Linked DNA regions of Homo sapiens: region 1 is linked to region 2. Evidence: fine-mapped expression QTL. Tissue or cell type: subcutaneous fat. Region 2 holds a variant in brackets; the other region holds the start of a gene. All regions are shown on one strand. Distances are from middle to middle.

The links. PIP is the estimated chance that this variant, and not a neighbour inherited with it, causes the effect.
Region 1: DNAAF1 starts here. The variant in region 2 is fine-mapped to the expression of DNAAF1 in subcutaneous fat (GTEx, PIP above 0.99).

What each region holds. Positions count from the first base shown.
Region 1 is chr16:84,141,336-84,147,698 of GRCh38, forward strand. DNAAF1 (dynein axonemal assembly factor 1) reads left to right here and starts at 3,973. Exons shown (of 12, transcript NM_178452.6): 1 at 3,973-4,229. The coding sequence starts at 4,106. HSDL1 (hydroxysteroid dehydrogenase like 1) reads right to left here and starts at 3,842. Exons shown (of 6, transcript NM_031463.5): 1 at 3,745-3,842. RefSeq lists silencers at 3,267-3,316, 3,367-3,416, 3,577-4,026.
Region 2 is chr16:84,181,921-84,189,837 of GRCh38, forward strand. It overlaps TAF1C (TATA-box binding protein associated factor, RNA polymerase I subunit C), which reads right to left and starts at 5,137. Exons shown (of 15, transcript NM_001243156.2): 1 at 4,981-5,137; 2 at 2,931-3,140; 3 at 1,777-1,858; 4 at 1,490-1,587; 5 at 1,324-1,413; 6 at 1,156-1,229; 7 at 282-520; 8 at 22-138. The coding sequence starts at 3,068. RefSeq lists an enhancer at 4,977-5,477 and a silencer at 5,123-5,332. The variant G/C (reference allele first, on the strand shown) is at 3,786.

The DNA of each region.
Region 1 (6,363 bases), 41 kb before region 2:
CCCTGCTGCTGGTTCAGATACACCACGATTCACAGGTCCCCCTGCTGCTGGTTCAGATACACCACGATTCACAGGTCCCCCTGCTGCTGGTGCTAGGCACGTGCACTGTTTCTGCTGGTTTTGATTTACAGTTAGGAACAGTGCTGCAGGGAGCGCTTGTCCCCATCTCCTGCACACCTGTGCAAGAGTTCGCAAAGGGATTTGCCCATGGTTTAACTGCTGGTCCACATGCATTCCACTGCCAAATGCTTTTGCAAAGCGGCAGAACCCATTCACACTCCCGCCAGCAGCAGGTTCGTGCCACTCCTCAATGTCACTGGCTGGTAGCGTCCAAAGCTTCACCTTCTGCCAACAGGGTGGCTGTGAAATGGTATCTCATTATGGTTTTAATTTACATTTCCCTGGTTACTAGTAAGGCTGCAGTCCTTTTTATATGTATGTGCTTTCTGTGTTTTGTAATCTATGAAATGCCCGTTCCTATCTTTTGTCCTTTCCTTTTTTTTCTCTCAGAATTGTAAGAATTCTTTAAATATTCTAGATACTAGCTCTCTGTATGTTTTGTGTCTCATTATAGTGTCTTTCATGAACTAAATGTGTTGTTATTATTATTGAGACAAGGTCTGGCTCTATTGCCCAGCCTGATGTGCAGTGGCATGATCACAGCTCACTGCAACCTCCGCCTTCCGGGCTCAAGCCATCCTCCCACCTCAGCATCTCAAGTAGCTGGGACACAGGCATGTACCACCAAGCCCAGTTAAATTTTTTTTGTGTGTGTAGAGATGAGGTTTCACCATGTTGCCCAGGCTGGTCTCAAACTCGTAAGCTCAAACCATTCACCTGCCTTGGCCTCCCAAAGTGCTGGGATTACAGGTGGGAGCCACTGCACCTGGCTGAATGTCTTAATTTTGAAAGAGACAAATATATCAATCTTTCTGCTTTAGGGTTTGTTTTATTTCAGAAATCCCTCCTTAGCCTCAGGTCATGAAGAAATTTTTTCGAATTATTTTCTAGAAATTTTACATTTTTGCTTTTTCAGTTTAAGTCTTTAATCCTCCTGGCGTTTTGTGATGGTGTGAGGCTGGGATCTCACACATCTTTTTTTTTTTTTTTTTTTTTTTGAGACAGAGTCTCACTCTGTCACCCAGGCTGGAGTGCAATGGCGCGATCTTAGCTCACTGCAACCTCCTCCTTCCAAGTTCAAGCAATTCTTCTGCCTCAGCCTCCCAAGTAACTGGGACTACAGGCGTGTGCCACCATGCCTGGCTAATTTTTGTATTTTTTTCTTTTTTAGTAGAGACGGGGGTTTCACCATATTGGCCAGGCTGGTCTTGAACTCCTGACCTTGTGATCCGCCCACTTTGGCCTCCCAAAGCACTGGGATGTGACCGGCCGGATCTCACACATCTTTAATATTCCTCCTCAGCACCTGACATGCTGCTGTAGACAACTTTATTTAATAAACAGAATCAAATACTGCTTTGTGTTCAAAGCTCAAATTTCACTCTTGAGAAAAAAACTTAAGCTTTTCATACTCTGCGTCAGCACTATGACAAAGTTAGCATTGGTGTATCAAGACTTTTTGGGATGTCTTTACCTTCACTGCCAATTTTTGGTATAGGACTAAACGCACAATGAAGCTGAGCCTAAAGAGCAGCAACATGGAATTAGAAACCTGGATTCTCATCCAAGATCCAACACTCTTCACCATCATGTCTGTATTTATGCAGTAAGAATTAAAATATTCAGAGTACCCCACTCCTAGGCAGATACCCAAGATAATTAGAAACTTTTGCTCACATAAAAACTCCTGCTTGCATGTTCACAGTGGCCTACTCACAACTGCCAGAAGGCAGAAACAAACAAAATGTCCATCAACAAATGAATGAATAAGCAAAATGTGGTGTTATCCACACAAAGGAGTATTATTCAGCCATAAAAAAGCATGAAGTACTGATACATACTACAACATGGATAAACTTTGAAAACATTATGCTAAAGGACAGAAACCAAATACAAAAGGCCGTATGTTGTATGTTTCCACTTGTATGAAATGTCCAGCATAAGCAAATCCATAGAGACAGAAGATAACTTAGGGCTGCTGAGGGACAGGGGGAGAAAAGAGGTATGACTGTTAATGGGGTTGGGGTTTCTTTTGTAGGTGATTAAATGTTCTGGAATTAGTTACTGGTGATGGTTGCATAGCATTGTGACTATAGCAAGAACTACTGAGTTATACACTGTAAAATGGCTAAAATGATAAATTTTATGTCATGCGTAAGTCATTTCGATTTTTGAAAACCTACTTTAAAAAAAAGTAGCACCAATATGTTCAACTCTGTTGCCCTAGAATATTCCAGCAGTGATTAAAACCACAAACTTGGCCGGGTACAGTGGCTCATGTCTGTAACCCCAGAACTTTGGGAGGCCAAGGCGGGCAGATCACTTGAGGCCAGGAGTTCAAGGCTACCCTGACCAACACAGCGAAACCCCGTCTCTACTAAAAAAAAAAAAAAAAAAATTAGCTGGGTGTGGTAGAACGTGCCTGTAATCCCAGCTACTCGGAAGGCTGAGGCAGGAGAATCACTTGGGCCCGGGGTGCGGGATGGCGGGCAGAGGTAGCAGGAGCTGAGATCGCAGGCACCATTGCACTACAGCCCGGGCGACAGAGCGAGATTGTCTGAATCAATCAATCAATCAACACCCTCCCCCTCCCCCTCCCTCTCCCTCTCCCTCCCTCCCTCTCTCTCTCTCTCTCTCTCCTGTGGCGGTCAGAGTAAAATTGAGAGCTCACTTTATGCAAAAGACTCTGCTAAGTGCTTTATTCCTATTGTCTCACTTTATTCTCTCATTAATCTTATAAAGCGCAGTCAGACTCTCCCGTTTATAGATGGGGAAATTGAGTCTTATAGATGTAAAGTCGCACACCCAAGACCCCACAACTCAGAAAGGGGCTACCTGCAATTCAGATGGAGGTATAGCAAGGCGCAGAGTCCTGTCCAGGGAGCCCACTGTGAGACCCCCCGACTGCCTCGCAGTCACCTGTACACATCATGTTGGGATCGCCGAGGGGCGCTGCAGCGATCCGGTTTCTGGGGCTGCGTCTGGGTGGCACGTTCAGAACGGGGACCTGCCTGGTTCTTCTTCCCAGCCCTTCCCCTCCAGCACCCGGCAAGGCCCAGTCAACACGAGCAAACTCGGAAATCCTGGCTGAACCCACGACCGCTGCATATTTCCATTTTAGAAAAACACGGCAACAACAACTCAAACCAAATCGTTCAGAAATGAGAATAAAGAAGCACCGACAAAGGAGGCGATTGCTGGGGCCGCTCGGGGGAGGAGCCGGGTGAGAGGCTGCAGGGAGGGCAGGGCATGCGCCGGCGACAACGGGGTTCGCGGTTTGGGGGGCAAGGCCCGGGGGAAGAGAGAGAACAGGGGTGCAGCGCCGCGGCGGGGGGCGTGAGGATGGAGCCGGGGGAAGGGGGGCTCTGAGATGTGAAGGGGCGGGGCTGGGGCTTTTTGGTCTGAAGGAAGGAGTCTCACGGGACGGAGGGACGAAGATTTCCTGGGGTCAGGGGCGCCAAGGGGCTTCGGGGCCGGATGCAGCGGAGGGGGCCCGGGGCCTGGGGGGCGTGGTGAGAGCTCAGAGGGGTCTCGCCAAGCAGCCGGCTGGCGCTGAGGGGACCGAGGAGGGGTCTGGGGCGAAAGGACCGCGAGAGGGCGCCCAGGGCGCGGGGGGCGCGGTACCTGCAGGCCGGCAAAGTCTTCCAAACCGGTCCCGCCAGACCCGCGCGGCCGCCGCCCCCGTCTCGGCCGCCGGAGCTGCTGCCGCGCCGCGCCCTCACGTGACCCGCGTACGCGCCGGGGGCGGAGCCGTCTCAGACCCGCCCCCACCCCCCGGCGTCCCCAGCGCGCCGGTCCGTCCCGAGTGCGCGTGCGCAGCGGTTGCCTGGGCGACCGGGGAAGCGTTGGGCTGTAAAGACTAGGGCGCCAGCGGCTGGCGAAGAAGGAAAGAGGGTACTCTCTGGCTGGGCTGGGGCCGTAGCGACGTCCGCCGCGAACCTGGGCCCCCCAAAGCTGCGGGGCGTTCGGTGTCGCCGAAGTAAACATGCACCCTGAGCCCTCGGAGCCTGCGACAGGTGGTGCAGCAGAGCTGGATTGCGCGCAGGAGCCCGGCGTGGAGGAGTCTGCGGGTGACCACGGGAGCGCAGGCCGAGGGGGCTGCAAGGAAGGTGCCGACTGCCCCCCAGGGAGGGCGGTGGGCGAGGGGCAGACACGGCTAGGCGCTCCAGCCCCCTTCCCACACCACATACCCGATCTTCACAGCCAAATAATAACAATAATAATAATGGTAGCAAGCAACGCTCTGCAGTAGGGGCTTCTCTCGCCATTTCGTACTGAGGAGGAAACATACTTAAGAGGTTACAAAACTTGCACCAAACAGATAACCCTCGGCTAGTCAGTGACAGAAGAGACTTGGCCGGGTGCGGTGGCTCAACGCCTGTAATTCCAGCACTTTGGGAGGCCGAGGCGGGCGGATCATCAGGTCAGTCAGGAGTTCGAGACCAGCCTGGCCAACATAGTGAAACCCTGTCTCTACTAAAAATACAAAAAATGAGCTGGGCGTGGTGGCGGGCGCCTGTAGTCTCAGCTACTTGGGAGGCTGAGGCAGGAGAATCGCTTGAACCCGGGAGGCGGAGGTTGCAGTGAGCCAAGATCTCGCCATTGCATTCCAGCCCGGACGACAGTGGGAGACTCCGTCTCAAACAAACAAACAAACAAACAAGCAAACAAAACCCACCAGACTCAGGCCCAGACAGTCTGGGTCTCCAGAGCCCCAGCCCTAACCCACCACGCTATTCTCCCTGGTCCCAACTTTGATGCTTTAAATGTGTCCCTTTATTGCTATCACTATGTAAGATCAAAGGCTTTCTCTCCCTCCAGACTGCATGTTGTGTCAGGGCAAGACATCTTGATTGAATTTGGAGTCTAGTCCAGTGCCTGACCTAGGGTAGAGAGTCCGAATGAAGACTTGGTTCTGGGGTCAGTGTGTGATCCCCTCACCAAAGTTTGCCAGAATGGACTTGAAAGATAACCTTCATGGCCAGGCACGGTGGCTCACGCCTGTAATCCCAGCAATTTGGGAGGCAGAGGCAGGTGGGTCACCTGAAGTCAGGAGTTCGAGACCAGTCTGGCCAACATATTGAAACCCTGTCTTTGCTAAAAACACAAAAATTAGCAGGGCGTGGTGACGTGCTCCTGTAATTCCACTTACTTGGGAGGCTAAGGCAGGAGAATTCCCTGAACCCCGGAGGCAGAGGTTGCAGTGAGCCAAGGGGGAGGCTGAGGCTGCAGTGAGCCAAGATCACACCACTGCACCCCAGCCTGGGCAATGGAGCAAGACTCCGTCTCAAAAAAAAAAAAGGAAAGAAGGAAGCCTGGCTTCAGCTTCTGCTCCCACTAGACTTGGTGCCCTAAAGGAAACCTTTTAGTGATTACATTAAAAAACCACTTGATTTGTGTTCCAGTTTCTGAACGCAGGCAACAAATAAACCAGCTGATTTGTGTTCCAGGCAACAAATATATCTTAAGCATCAACTGTCCAGATGAACCTTGTATGAGGAGCCATAGGGAACTGGCATTACTCAGTGGAAAGACACTGGTCTTGGAGCCATTGACACTGGGTTCAAGTTGAGGCTCAGCAGCTGGCCAGCTTTATGGCTGTTGGCCCAGAGCTTAACCTCTCGGAGCCTTAGTCTCCTCATCTGTAAGCTGGAATAATTATACAGGAGTATAAGGAGAGAATTATAATTAAATGTCCCAGCATATAGTGGGCCATTATTAAATGGTAGCTCTTGTTATTAATTACATATTAATATTTATATATTGAGCGCTTATTCTTTATTTTTTCCACAAACATTTATCTGTTGCTTCCTGTGGCTGGGCATTCTATGCAAAATTGATGAGTTTAAGAACCAGTCCCCACACGCACAGCCTTTAGTCTTGTTCAATAGACCACACAAACACAGAAAGCAGCAGACAACAGCTCTTAAAGTTAAGTGCGGTTGAATTGGCCAATTTTGAATGACCTTTAAAAAAATTATTCATTTGAATGTGCTCATGTTATTGTTATCATAGATATTCTCACTATTTTTGTTTCTTTTCATGTGATTTTCCTTTTTATGATTTTTTTTTTAAGAGATGGAATCTCACTATGTTACCCAGGCTAGATCTTCCTGCCTCAGCCTCCTGAGTAGCTGGGACTACAGGCATGCTCCACTACACCTGGCTTCAGAAATTTTTTAAAAGACAAAAGAACAAAGAACATTAAAACAAATACCCGTGTTTTGCCAGCAAGAATTGAAA
Region 2 (7,917 bases):
AAGTGTATATAAGGGCCTTACTTTCTCCCTGGACGGTGCATGTCACCACTTGCCGGACAGGTCCCTGGAGCTGGATGCGTCCAGGTTTCCCAAGGAATTGGGGATTGTCACCTGGGGTCAGAACGACCTCTTGGAAATCTGGGCCTCTCACTAAGGATCAGTGCACGAGCTATGATCACTGCAAGCCCCCCAAATTCCTGCCCTTCTCTGGACCATGCCAAGAGCACCTCCTCTACCAGAGGCGAGCCCGCTGGAATCTCCTGTCTCGCAAGAAAGGATACGCAGCCTGTCCTGGGCGCCTCCAGCAGGGTAGACCAGCTGCCCGAACTGGGGTGTCCTTCCAGGAACCCAGGCCAGCGCGCCCCCAGTGCAGGCCTCATCCAGAAGCAGCTGCTCCCACCGCAGCACCAGCTCCTCGTGCAGCAGCTCTGCCAAGTGGCTCGCCACCGACGTGCCCAGGATGGGGCCCCCGAGGATAGAGAAGCGGCGCTGTCGGTTGCTGAGGTAAGCCCAGGGACACCTGGGGACCAGAGAACAGCAGGAGGATCACTCGGTGGCACTCAGGGGAGGACAGGTCCCATCCCAAGGAGGCCAAGTGCAGTGGACACATTTCTTATTTACCTAGAATTTCTTCCTTTGGGAGACCACCCCATCCTGTTCCCATGCCCCGGAAGCAATCATGTGACCCAGACCTGGCCACCAACAATATTCCATTGCCCTTGCCACAGTGACTGGTTCACAGATGGGTGTGAGACCCAAGCCAAGCCAACCAAAGTCCTTTCTGGGACTTCTGGTGCCGCAGGAAGGACACTGGCTCTTTCCTTAGATCATAAGCCATCTTGCTGCTACCTAGAGACAGCCTGTCTAGGGAACTGTGCAGGGAGAGGCAAGTGGACGAGACAGGAAAGAGAGACACAGCTCTATGAACATTATTTGAACACCTGGATGCAGCTGTGCCTGAACTCCACAAATGTAAATCTGCTTTCCCCTGAGATGATTTGGAGTTGGAAGTCTGGTATAAGAAAGTACAGCTCAGACTGCATGGAGCAGGGGGGAAGTGGGTATGACGGAAAGCTGTACGTGCGTCCTAGCACCTCCTACATCCCCACCACCAGCTATGCCTATCCATCTCCTCCTTTCTCATCAGCCACTTGCCCCCAGGGCTGGTGTCCACCGAGGTCCTGGAGCAGCTTCTTCACACTGACCACTGTCTTCTTCTTAGTGCGGCTCTGCATGGAAAGGCCTTGTCAGGCTCACACACCCTCGAGTTCACCCCTGAAGGACAGCAGGGAGTCCCCACCCCTGGAGTCACGGGCCACTCACCCCCGCTCCCTCCAGCTTGAAATTCTCCAGCATCAGCTTCCCCAGGGGCGCAAAGGCTACGTCTCCATGATCCAAGAGGAACCGGCTGATCTGGGGAGAAGAGGAGGCCAGGTCACTAAGCACAGTCTCCAGGCTACGCAGCACTGTCCCCCGTGGGCCCACTCACCTGCTCAGTCACATCCAGCACGACTCGGGGCCGCTTCCGATACCGGCACCCTCCGCGGAAAAGCAGGTCCCGGGCAGTCAGGCCAGGGTCCCAGGGATCTGAGAAGGAGGTTACGGAAAGGGCTGGGGAGGGCACAGGAGTGCGGCCAGATGCCCTGGGCGACTGGAGGTATCCAAGGGTCCTGAGCAGGCACAGGCTTAGCAGGGAGAGGAAGGTCTCAGGAGCGGGAGCAGTGGGAAGAATAGGTGGAGCAGTGTGGAGTGAGCCCGGGGGAATGAGACCCTTACCGATGAGGGGAGGCAGCATGGGGAGAGGCCCAGGGGTTGCCGGCTCCCACAGCAGGTCCTTGGTCACATGCAGTGCCCCATTCTGAAGGGAGGACAATCGCAAGGACAGTATCATGATGAATGCCCTCCCTGGGCCAGGCTGTGCACAGGCATTCATCTCTTATCAACTCATCCAATCCTCACAACAATCCTGCGAAGCTGGGATGACTGGCATTGTCATTTTACTGCTGAAGAAACTGAGGCACACTGCCATTTGCCCCAGAAGACAGAGCCGGTAAAGAGAAGAGCTGGGATGTGAACCCAGGCAGCCTGACCCCAGAGCTCCTGTTTCCGACCTCCACCTGTGCTGGCTCTCAAAGAAGGAAGCCCCTCATGCCACCAGTGGCTGGTCCACATCTCACGTAACCTCACTTCCATTCAGGAGACCTTGCAGTCACTCTGGGAGCCCGGCAGGCGGCTCCACCTCCCTTTGCTGGGCTGGCCTGGGATGTTTCGGCCCAGACATTCAGGGGACAAAAGAGCTAGGAAACCAGACTCCCAGAGGAGCCCCAATTTGACGCCAGACCCTCCCTCGTAAGGATGCCATCCCTGACCCCCGTTCCCCAAGCCTCTGCTCCACTGTCTCTCTTTTTATTTGCTCACCCACTTGCCTCTGCCAGGCTTCATTCCCAGACAGGGTGTTTCCAAGGGGAACTAGGCGGCTGAGGATTCCAAGCAAAGGGCCAGTGTCCCTCCAGAGGCAGCAGAAACCCTGCAGGTCTATCCTCCCCTCTCCCAACCCTACTATGCTGTTTCAGCATCCTTCTGCTTTCATTCCAAGCTCTGATCACATTTTGTAAACACCTTATCCATTGGATAAAGTTCACTTGTTTATTCTCGCTCAACTCAGCTCTCCGTTCCAGGAAGGGAGGGGTCAACCGACTGATTCAGGCAGCATTCTCACGGTCTCATAAGGGACCCGGCATAGTGGGGGCATCCGTCTAGGGATGGCAGGGTAGCCCATGTACCCCAGAGGAGGTGGCAGAGCCTGTGTCTCAGCAGACTCGTGTGAATGCCACCACTCTGTGGCCTTGTCAACTGATGTGAATGTGAGACGGGGGACCCAGGGAAGGGATGTCCCTGGAGCTGCCAGGGCCCCCTGCCTGCATCCTCACCTCTGAGTTCTGGGGCTGGGCCTCTGGCAGAGTCAGTGCGTCTCGCCAGCTGCACATGAAAGAGAGGTCAGGGACGTCGCTCAGACCAAGGGGGCCGGTCAGAAACAATGCAGGGCGGAGGGAGCTGGGGAAGTCCATCCTGGAAACAAGGACCAAGCACCACACTGGCCACCTCGAGAGACTGGAAGCTGGTAAGGGGCGCCAGAGTTCCTGAGGAGTGAAAAGTGCACTACGGGAAGCATATGTTCTTTGAGGAAGCAGATAACAAAAAACAAATATGTAGCCCAAGGCCAAGCAGTAGTGAGAACTGTATTAAAGCCAACCACCCGTCCAGGAGAAGGGGATCTGGTAGTGGGCTGAGGGCGTGGTTTCAGCAAAGCCAGCCAGGAAAAGCCTCGTTGAGAAGGTGGCGTTTGAGCACAGCCTGAACCTAGTGAAGGAGAGAACCATGTACGCAACTGGGAAGAGGGTTCCAGGCCGAACGGTCAACAACTGTGAAAATCCTAGAGCAGTGAAGTGTGTGAGAAAATGAGGCAGCCAGAGTGAGCGAGGTGGAGAGCGGTGGAGATGGAGTCAGAAAGACGGCAAGGGGCAGCCTCTCTCCCGGCTCGTAAGTACCGTCATCATACATTTACAGACTACACCCCCAAGACGCTCAAGTTACTCCACAGCCAGGGACTGCATCTGAGCATCGTCTTCCTACTGTCAAGCACAGTGCCTCCCAGAAAATGCACTAGGGGTTGAAAAAAATAAATTTCTATCACAAGGGGCCGGGCGCGGTGGCTCACGCCGGTAATCCTAGTACTTTGGGAGGCCGAGGCAGGCGGATCACCTGAGGTCGGGAGTTCGAGACTG[G/C]CCTGACCAATGTGGAGAAACCCGGTCTCTACTAAAAATACAAAATTAGCCGGGCGTGGTGACGCATGCCTGTAATCCCAGCTACTCGGGAGGCTGAGGCAGGAGAATTCCTTGAAGCCGGGAGGCGGAGGTTGCGGTGAGCTGAGATCGCGCCATTGCACTGTAGCCTGGGCAACAAGAGCGAAACTCCATCTCAAGAAAAAAAAAAATTACATCACAAGGCTTTGGTAAATACAGTCCTCTAGAAGTATGAGCAGCCATAGCATCCCTCCTTTTTAATTAACAAAAATAACAGGGGCAAAAATAACAGCAGCGCTCGCTGACCAAGCGCCAGCATCTATCTGCCAGGCACATGCTAAATGCTGCACTCTTCTATCGCCGTCCCTGTTAACAGAGTTCAGGAAACGAAGGCTCAGCAAGAACTTTAGTCCAACAGCTCTTAGCTGCCACAGCCAAGACTTGATTCCCATCCGATTCAGAGGCAGAGCTCCGAACCAGTGCTCTCGCATGCACCGAAATGCAAACGCTAGCATTAGAGTCTCGCTATACAAAAATCTTTTCCCTTTGGCCGGGTGCGGTGGCTCCCGCCTGCAATCCCAGCACTTTGGGAGGCCAAGGCGGGCGGATCACCTGAGGCCAGAAGTTTGAGACCAGTCCGGCCAATACAGTGAAACCCTGTCAATACTAAAAATACAAAAATTAGCCGGGCGTGGTGGTGTACACCTGTAATCGCAACTACCGAGGAGGCTGGGCACGAAAATCGCTTGAATCTGGGAGGCAGAGGTTGCAGTGAGCCAAGATCATGCCACAGCACTCCAGCCTGGGTGACAGAGCAAGGTTCTATCTCAAAAATAAAATAGAAACAAAAATATTTTCTCTTGGAACCGCATAGCCTGAAACGATCCTAGACAGGCGGAGGGCGCTGGTGGAGAGCACGACCCCACAAAAGCCCTCAGACAAGGCAGCCTCGACTTCCCCGGCCGGCTTCCCGCCCTCGCTGCGGGCTCTCCAGGACCCTTTAGACCTCCAAGGCTACAGAACTCAGTCGGATCCGCAATAACGACAGGCCGGGGACTGCGAAACGTGAGCCTGCCGCGGGGACTGGGGATTGGGGGCGTCCCTCCCCTCCTACATCTGCGGGTCCGCTCCTCGAACACGCGCAGTCCGCGCGGAGGGGGCGCATGCGTGCACTTACGTGACCCCGGCCTCGTCGTGGTCGTCTGGAAAATGGGCCTCGGCGTGATGCTCGCCGGACCCTGGCACCACGAGGGAAATCTCAAGTAGAACCCCAGCTTTGGCACTCGGGACGGGTCAGCCCCGCCGCAGCTACCCACGGTCTTCCGGTTTGGACCGGAAGTGCCTCCTGCGGAGGCAGGAAGTCCCGCCTCCCAGCCAGGCCTCTTAGGGTCCTGGCGCGCCCCCTCCCGGGAGGAGAGGGAACGGGCGTGCAGGCGGCGCGTGGGCAGCGGAAATAAAGCTCCCTTGAGTCCCAATAGTGGAGGCCGGGTGGACTTAGGTTCGAATCCCACATCTACTTCACCAATTTCCTCAGAGTTGTATTAAATTAATCATTTAACGAACTCCCACAGAACACCTACTATAAGCCAGACCTGTATTGGTCAGTAGGTATCCTACTGATTGTCCTTAAATCCCAAGAAGCGGGCTTTACAAATAAGGGTACAAATACCTACTAAGAGTGAAGCTTTTCCAGGGGTGGTCAGGCAGGGAGAGCTTTAGGCAGTGGTCTTCAAACTCTAGCTAGCGTGCGTCAGCAGTAGCACCTGGGGGGCTAGTTAAAACACAGTCTCCAATTCGGTGAGTCTGGGGTGGGACCTGATGATTTGCCTAAGTTCCCAGGTGATGCTGAAACTGCTTATCTGGGGGCCATGCTTTAAGAACCACTGTCCAGTCATGAACCTTACCGTTATCCTAACATAGTACTTCTCAAACTTCAGTGAGCCTTAGAACCACCTGGGGGGCTTGTTACAAGTTTGCTAGGCTCCACCCTACCTCTGCCCCCCGAGTTGCTGATTCAGTAGATCTGGGATGTGGCCCAAGAGTCTGCATTTCTAGCAAGTTCCCAGATGATGCTGGTCCAGGGGCCATACTTTGAGAACCGTTGCTTTAAAGAATCAATTTCCAAATTCTCAGCTGTCATCTATGTCTTTATTTATTTTTTTGAGATGGAGGCTAGAGTGCAGTGGCACGATCTTGGCACACTGCAACCTCCGCCTCTTGGGTTCAAGCAATTCTTCTGCCTCAGCCTCCCGAGTAGCTGGGATTACAGGCCTGCGCCACCATGCCCGGCTAATTTTTGTATTTTTAGTAGAGACGGGGTTTCACCATGTTGGTCAGGCTGAGTCTTGAACTCCTGACCTCAAGTGATCCGCCTGCCTAGGCCTCCCAAATTGCTGGGATTACAGGATGAGCCACCACGCCTGGCCTATATTGTTTTTATCTGGAAGTTTTTACCTGGACTAAAAGTGCCAGCAGGGCTGTGTTCCTTTTGAGAGGCTCTAAGGAAGAGTCCACTATCTTGTCTTTTCTGGCTTCTGGAAGCTGCCTGCATTCCTTGGCTCATGACCCCTTTCCATCTTCAAAGCCAGCAATGCCAGTCGGATTCTTCTCATGAGGCCATCTCTCTGGTTTTTACTCTTCTGTCTCCCTCTTTCCCATGTAAGGACCCATGTGATTATAGTAGGCCCGCCCAGGTAATCCAGGATAATCTCCCTATTTTATTTGTTTTATTTATTTTTTTGAGACAGGGTCTCACTCTGTCGCCCAGGCTAGGGTGCAGTGGTACCATCATGGCTCATTGCAGCCTCAACTTCCCAGGCTGAGATGATTCTCCCACCTCAGTCTCTCGAGTAGCTGGGATTACATGCAAGCACCACCATGCCTGGCTAATTTTCTTTTTTTTTTTTTATTTTGAGACAGAGTTTCACTCTGTCACCCAGGCTGGAGTGCAGTGGCGTGATCTTGGCTCACTACAACCTCCACCTTCCAGGTTCAAACGATTTTCCTGCCTCAGCCTCCCGAGTAGCTGAGACTACAGGTGCCTGCCACCACACCCAGCTAATTTTTGTATTTGTAGTAGGGACGGGGTTTCACCATATTGGCCAGGCTGGTCTTGAACTCCTGACCATGTGATCCACCCGCCTTGGCCTCCCAAAGTGCTGGGATTACAGGCATGAGCCACCACGCCCGGCCTAATTTTTGTAGTTTTTGTAGAGATGGGATTTCATCATGTTGCCCAAGTTGGTCTCTAACTCCTGGGCTCAAGCTACCTTCCCACCTGGGCCTCCCAAAGTGCTGGGGTTACAGGTGAGAGCCCTATTTTAAAGGCAGCTGATTAGCAACCTTACTTCCACCTGCAACCTTAATGCCCCCTTGCCAAATAATATACTCATAGGTTCTGGGGATTAGGCTGTAGACATCTTTGGGGGAACCATTATTTTGCCTACCACACTAATATTCTACATTACCCTTGTAAAACGCCTATCCAGCTTTGGCACTGCGAGGCCAGTTCCATTTCTTCCTTTCCTCCTTTCTCTGAATAAGCCATTATCAATTTGCTTTTGTAACTGACATATACTCAACATGCAGTAAAGCACACGAGTCTTAAATGTACAGCTCATTGAATTTTTATTCATACATAGAAACCCACATGAACACCACCCAGATCAAGACAGAGAACATTTCTATCACTCAAGAAAGTTCCAGCCAGGCACAGTGGCTCATGCCTATAATTCCAGCACTTTGGGAGGCCGAGGTGGGAGGGTTGCTTGAGTCCAGGAGTTCAAGACCAGACTGGTCAACAGAGCAAAACCCCCATCTCTACAAAATTTTTTTCTAAAAAGAAAATTCCCTGGTGCCACTTCCCAGTCAATACTTCCTTCAAGAAGGAACCACTATTTGGACTCTTATCACCACAGATTAGTTTTGCCAGTTCAAGAACTTTACATAAGTGGAATCATGGAGAGGATGTGTCTGGCTTCTTCCACGCCATGTGCCTAATAGATTCACCTGTGTTGTGTACGCAGCTGTTGTTTCCTTTTTAAATTAGTGAGTCGTGTTCCATTGTATGAATATACCATTGATTTGTTCACGCAACCTCCTGTTGGTGAGCGTT